Homo sapiens: one gene and its partner. The protein of the gene in region 1 purifies or fractionates together with the protein of each later gene. This does not show direct contact. Each region holds a gene or a part of one and is shown on either strand. Other genes may lie near its edges.

Region 1 (3,651 bases):
TTTAATACAAAAATATTTTTCTCCCATTCTCTTGAGTGTGGGACCGTATTGATGGGTTTGTCTACTGTGTGTCTGAAACCTGCTCGTCCCACCACCACCGACAGCTGAGTGGATTGACCAGTCAGCTTTGCTTTATAGGACATAGGGTCTTGGCATCCTAATGCTTGAGTGAGTAGGACTTCACTTGACACACAGGCATCCACACTAGGTCCTCAGACTGCTGGTCAGTGTCTTTGGAGCAAGGTCCTCCATTCTTCTGTAGCAAACAGAGGGATTCCTGTCCCTTTCAGTGGGGCGTCCAGGGCCACAGCAGTTCCCACATGTGCCCCTGGCCTTGCTCCTGCTCTGCATACCTGCCGACTCCCAACTGGAGCCTATGTAGCTGTGGCTTCTGGATGTCTCCTACCCTATAGGATTTGTCTCCTGTGCCCCTCCTCCTTTTGTCTTCTGCAGATTTGTTGACATCTCATCTGTTCCTGGCCTCCCTCTTCCCCCATTTTCACTGTCTGGGGTTTTTCTCTTCATGCCTATTATGCCTGCAGTTCACAAGAGGTCAGAGAGATGGCTGTCTGTTCCCAGTGTGACATCTTCACCTGGGACCTCTGGAAGCATTTCTTGTCTGGTTTTCTCCCTTGATGATTTGGTTCATTCCCCTGGGTAGGCAGTGTGAGAAGCTTCCCCAAATTTGGAAATTATTATGTTATATAGAGCTGGGTGGGAGAATTATATTTGTTAAGTGAGCTTGTTCTTGTGAAGGCAGGCTGAGGAGCCTTGGGCCCTCTGTGTCGTGTTTCCATTGCACACAAGTTCATGGTTAGACATGATTTGGCCCAACATGTGTCTGGATCATTTCAGGAGTGAGTGGATCTGTTGTTCCATTTGCTCACGTTCCTCATGGTGTTAGAAGGTAGGGAGTGAAGCTCAGTTGCCTATTGTTCAATAGGACTAGCCAAGTAAATACCCTTTTCCGTGGTAAATTCCCCTATGAAAGGTCATGCAAGTGGAACTGCGATCTCATGAGAGGATGCTTCCTTGGAGTCTGCATGTGAACCTGGCAGAGCCGCCTGTGGTTAGCAGAATATCTTCGCTGTGTCCCCCAGTGGGCAGCCTTCTGCCACCTTCTCCCCTCACTGCATGGCTCAGGAACTATCTTTCATTTAGTAACTATCTGATGGGCTGGATGTGGTGGCTCACATGTGTCATCCCAGCACTTTGGGAGGCTGAGGCAGTAGGATCACTTGGGGCCAAGAGTTCGAGACCAGCCTGGGCAACAGCAAGACCCCTGTCTCTACAAAAAATAAAAATAAAATTAGCCAGGCATGGTGGCACGTACCTGTAGTCCCAGTTACTCGGGAGGCTGAGGTGGAGGGATTGCTTCAGCCCAGGAGTTTGATGCAGCAGTGAGCTGGGATCACGCCACTGCACTCCAGCCTGGGCAATGCAGTGAGGCCGTGTCTCTTAAAGAAAAAGAAGAAAAACTGACAGCGGTGACTCCTGCACATCATTTCTCCCATTTCCATTTTTTATTTACGAATATTTAAACTACAGTTAGGTTATGGTATTGTATTTCATTGGAAATACTAAACTCCAGTTTGGAAAATCTATCAGTTTGGGTTGTCTTTTTTTCCAATCATTTTATAAGCGTTTAATGAGCCATCTACCAAATGACATGGAGAGTAGCTTCCAAATTATTTTTATTCCACATACCTATTAGAAAAAAGTTTTAAGTACTTGATCCCAGTGTCTTCTTAATGCATACATTATACAGATACAAAATGTAAATGGAAGTTCTGTTTTATTTCCTCTTCTAATTACTGACCTGTGAACCTCCTGGGGTATGCATACCCTGCTTTGGAGACTGCTGGCTGGAATACATGATATGAAGTAAAAGGAACCCTACTCCCACAGCTGCCAGTCCAGTTCTGGAGACGGACAAGTGGTGGGGCAGGGATAGGTGTTCCTAGGGCGGTGGGGAAGGCCATGGGGCCAGTCTCTGCCTAGGACAGGCTCAGAGGGAGGAGGGTGAGCTGAGGCTTTTAGAGGCTTGGTTTTGTAAAGAACCAAGACAAAATGCAAAACCATGTGCGAGTGTTGGTGGTATATTGGTGAGCATAGCTGCCTTCCAAAACCAAAGGAGTTGGTCTCATACTCTTGGATGAAGACCAGGCTATAGTCAACCAGGCAGTGCAGTGGCTCATGGAAGGAAGAGGTGGTGCTTGTCTCTTGTACAGCAGTCCTGGGGTGAGCAATTCAGGGTGTGCAGCCCCCTCAGCTTTCTTGGTTGCTGTGGTCCAGGGCTGGGCTCCTGCGTCTCCCAGGTAGCCACAAGGGGAGGCAAGGAAGAAATACCACTTGTCTCCTCTGCTCACTTTTTGCTGTGACAATTGGTCTCCGTTAACTGGAGAAGGGAGAAGAAGATTGGGTCACAGCAGCTTCCACCACAGCATTTTACGTTACCAGTTATGCTGAGAAAGATTTTCTGGTGGATTTACTAAATGAGCTGACATCTTCAGGTTGCTCTAGGTATAAATTAGGCTGGTATGGTTTTCTTCACTGAGATGCCTGGTGAGCCTGATGACAGCGCTGTAGTGTGCAGTCAGGTACCTTGGAAACCATCACCACTCCCACCGTACAGCACACCAGTGGTCACCCTGATAGGAGAGATGATTTTCTTCTGCTGTGTCCCCAGGTCTCAGTGGCCCTTAGCAGCAGCTCCATTCGTGTGGCCATGCTGGAGGAAAATGGGGAGCGCGTCCTCATGGAAGGGAAGCTCACCCACAAGATCAACACTGAGAGTTCTCTCTGGAGTCTCGAGCCCGGGAAGTGCGTTTTGGTAAGTTTGGGCACCTGTGTGTAGGGCTCCCAGGTGGACTTCAAACCTGCAGTGATGCCCCTTTTGACCAACAAGCCTATTTACACTTAAGCAGTGAGGTTGTTAATTTCAGCTGCTGGGGCAGATGGGTTTTCCTGAGCATTTTCCATACTGCTCAGAGATCGTCTCTGTGGGCACTTGAGCTTTGGCCCTTTGAGGTCTTGGTCATTCCCAAGAGCTCCACTGTTCTTACATCTAAGGCAAAAACAAGTAAATTGAAAATGAAAAGCTAGGTTGAATTTTTACAGATGCTACTCTGGAGGGTACAGAGTTAATAAATTCAGAGAATCAGGCTCATTGACCAACTGGCTGTCCTTAGCCAGCTGCTGGTTAGGCATAGCTAAGAGTTCAGGACAGTGAGATTAAGGTGTGACTCCAAATGAACAGCTCACATGTTACCAGTTAGCAGACTCGCTCACAAATTGGGCTGCACGCCTGGGCCAGATCTGTTGGTGGCTCAGCTCCTTCTCCCCTGTGAAAGCTTTGAACCTTGTCAGTGGTGGCTCTGTGCTGGTGCCCAAGTGGAGGTCACCTACAGATAAATTGAGGCACAACATGTTCTGAACTAACTTGTTTCCTTTTTTTCTCCTACTGGGGTGTTTACAGGGCATGGTAAAAGGAATAAAGGTGAAAAGAAAAATATAATGTCTGGACAAAAGTCTTTAGAATTTTATACAGATATATTCTTCATATGTGCAAAGTATGCAATAAAGGTATCTGTTTTGGTTTCTATAAGACATGCTTGGCAGGCTTCTGCCTGGGCTTCCCTGGCCAGTGCT
Region 2 (3,651 bases), on another chromosome or scaffold:
ATGCCTGTAATCCCAGCACTTTGGGAAGCTGAGGCAGGCGGATCATGAGGTCAGGAGATGGAGACCATCCTGGCTACCATGGTGAAACCCCGTCTCTTCTAAATAAAAAAAAATACAAAAAAAATTAGCCGTGTGTGATGGCGGGCGCCTGTAGTCCCAGCTACTCGGGAGGCTGAGACAGGAGAATGGCGTGAACCCAGGAGGCGGAGCTTGCAGTGAGCCGAATTTGCGCCACTGCACTGCAGCCTGGGTACAGAACGAGACTCCAACTCAAAAAAAAAAAAAAACCAGGAACATTCCTAGAACAATGAGAAACTTTTGGAAATTTAAAATGTGTTAGATGTAGTGGAGGAACTCTCCAAAAAAGTAGAGTAAATAGATAAGAGAAGGGACCTAGAAGAGAAACATTTAAAAAAAAAATAGAGTACCTGCCTAGGAGGCCAAATATCTGTCTAATTCCTGAAGAAGCAGTGGAGAACACAAAGTGGAGAAATAATGGGATAGATTCCCAGGACTGAAGAACATGAATTTTTAGATTGGCAGGACCATCCAGTTCTGGAGCTGGCTTGTCCTGGCTCATGAGATCTGACTGTTAAACTTTCAGGAATTTTTGCAAGCTGATTGTTAAACAAAGTCGTTATTAAAACTTATTTCCAAATTATTTCCGATTTTACTGTTACTTAGGCTCTTGTGGTTTTTGCATCTATTTTATCTATATGGTGTAAATACTATATAATAAGGTGCTACAGCTCTTCTCTTGGCAACTGCACATTGAGTAATGTCACATTGGTACCTTGGCAGGAAGATTTACACCACAGAAAGCAGGAAGCACTACAAATCATGGCTTTTTTCCCCCAAGAAAAATTAAACCTTTATCAGCGCACCACTGGATTCATCTAGTATCCAGTACAGTCAATGAAAAAGACCCACACACAGAGGCATATCATCATGAAATTTTGGAACATTGGTGATAAAGAGAACATTGTGAAAACTTTGAGAAAGAACATACATTTCACATGTAAAAACAATAAGTCATCATAATGACATCAGACATCAATAATACTGAAAGCTTGAAGTCATTAAAATCATGCCCTCAGAATTCTATGAAAAGGGTGATTTGCAATTTAGAATTCTATATCCAAATAATAGGGTGGAATGGAGACATTTTCAAACCTGTGAAGTCTGAAAAGATTACCTCTCATGTACCTTTTCTAAGGAAGCCTATGGAGATGTACTTCAATAGACCACAAAAGAATGGTATGTAGGAAATAGTCTGACACTGGAGAGAGGCAAAGAGAGTCTTGAGGATAATGATAAAGGGAATTTGCAGAATGACTGTCCACCTGTCAGACCATTTGGAAGCACGAAAGTGGAGGAGTCCAAGAAAAGTGTGTCCAAGGAAAAAACAAAATTGTTAGAATACTGGTAGGTTTGAGTATATTAAGAAGAGATTGCCAGTTTTCCTAGTAGAGTTGTCAGCATAGGCTTCACTGAGGAGGTGGTGGTTGAGAAAGCTTTTGAAGGAAGTCAGGGAGCAAGCCATGTGGATAGCAGGAAGAAGAATATACCCAGCAAAAGGAATAGCATATCTAAAGGCCCTGAGGTAGATCTGATGCATTTGAGGGACAACAAGAAGGCCAGGGTGGCTGGACTGGAGTGAGCGAGGGGCAGAGTACTTGGAAATAGGGTCAGAGACCTGATTTGGGGTGGGGAGGTAGGCAGATACATAAGGCCATTCTATGGCTTTGGCTTTAACTATAGATGAGGTAGATTGTGTCATGTTTGAGCAGAGGAGTGATGTAGTCTCACTTATGTTTTAACAGAGTCACTCTGGCTGTTCTGTTAAGAGTAGAATGTAGGCAGGTAGGGTGGCAGCAGGGATACCAGTTAAGAGACTATTGCAGTGATCCAGTAAGTAATAGCTATGGCATTCTGTTTCCTGCCACTAGGATTTAAGTTCTTTACTGTCAACTGATGTATCCTAAGCACCTAGAAGAGTGTCTGGCACATACCAAGTCCTCTGTGATTGATTATTTGTTGTTTAACAGTGGTGGCTTGGATCAGAGTGGTAGCATTGGGAATAGTAAGTAATTATATTTTCAATGTATTTTGCAGGTTAGAGCCCAATTGATTAATGGAGGATGGTCTATGGGCCATGAAAGAACAAAGTCAAAGATAATTCTAATGTTTCTGGATTGAACAGCTTGCAAGAGAGAGTTGCCATTAAACTGTAAACCTGTGGGTAGAGCAGGTTTAGGGGAGAAGATCAAAAGTTCTGTAAGTAGAGATATCTCATAGTTTCTCAAAGGAGTGTTAGCTGTGTCACAGCCACCTGACGAGTCAAGTACAATAGGGACTGAAAATTAACTTATTGGAGTTAGCAATGTGCAGGTCATTGGTGACCTTGACAAGAGTAGTTTGAGTGAGATAGTAGGGGTGAAAGCCTCTTTAGGGTGGGTTTAAGAAAGAATGGGAGGAGAAAAGTTGGACAGTATGGAAAAGAGTTTTGAGGAGTTTTATTACAATGGGAGCTGAAAAGTGGTGCATTAGCTGGAGGGGTAGGTAGTGTTAGATTTTGTTTTTGTTATTTTTTAGATGAGAGGGAAAAAATGGCATGTTTGCATACAGATGGGACTGATCCTGTAGAGAAGGGGAAACAGTTTAGGAAAGTGGAAGAACTGCTTAAGTGTATGAGAGGGGTTGGGTGCTAGTGCACTGGCAGAGGGATTTGCCTTGCATGGGAGCGCAGAAAGTTATATATGTACAAATGTTGGGTAGATGTGCTGATGGGGGCTTTAAAAAAGTTATCTTCTGCTAACTTCCATTTGTTAGTAACAAAGTAAGCGATGCCATTGGCTAAGAGTGAGCATGGAGGAGGGGAGATGAAATAGTCATGAAAGAGCATGGGAGTCTGGAAGGACTATGGAAATGCAGCATGAGTGCCCTGCAGCATTAAGGGCCCACATAAAGTTCATGGCCATAAGTTTAAAGTGAGCATTGTATGTTTTTTCTACAGCCATGGAGAAAACCAAGTAGTACAGGCACGGAATAGGAAGAGTTGAGCTTAACTGGAGGCTGTAGTTTTTCTAAGCAAGTACCACAAAGCAAGAGAATTTAAGATTGTTGAGGATGTGTGCAACGGAGTGATTTAGTAATTTCATCTATGTGGAAGGAAGGAAGAGAGGATATGATGAGTGTAGGATGGGAAGAAGTTGGTAGAATCAGTGGATTATAGGTCCTGTGGGGGTTAAAGGATTGCTGAAGTTGGGATGAATAGAGGGAGTGAGCTGGAAAGATGGGAGAGAAGATGGTTGGAGAGCGTGACGGTCTACCCTGTGACTAGAGAGGGTTTGCAGTCGTTGGTAATGGTGAGGTTGAGGGTGTGACTGTGGAATAAGCAGTTGAGGTTGAGAGGAGGTCAAGGAACTAGCAGGAGGCTATGGTGCTGTAAAGAACCTTTCTGAGGATTTTGAAATTACCGAGAACTAAGAGAGGTATAGCTGGACAGAGTGACACTGGGGCAGGAACTAAAGTGTGAAGACATCGAAGAGAGTGACTGCTTTTAATCAGTGGGGAGCATGGAGAGTGGAGGTGGTAGGTGCTGTGGAGGAAGAGGAACTGTTTCAACTTGTAGATTATCACAGATGCTTT

What was found.
Region 2: the proteins of NUDCD3 (region 1) and DET1 purify together in Homo sapiens (affinity purification with a luminescence readout; one large-scale study listed by IntAct). This does not show direct contact.

The regions. Positions count from the first base shown.
Region 1 is NC_000007.14:44,403,622-44,407,272, reverse strand, and holds part of NUDCD3 (nudC domain-containing protein 3), read left to right. Parts: intron 1-2,689; coding exon 2,690-2,833; intron 2,834-3,651.
Region 2 is NC_000015.10:88,519,149-88,522,799, reverse strand, and holds part of DET1 (DET1 homolog), read left to right. Parts: intron 1-3,651. UniProt on the Homo sapiens protein: Component of the E3 ubiquitin ligase DCX DET1-COP1 complex, which is required for ubiquitination and subsequent degradation of target proteins. The complex is involved in JUN ubiquitination and degradation.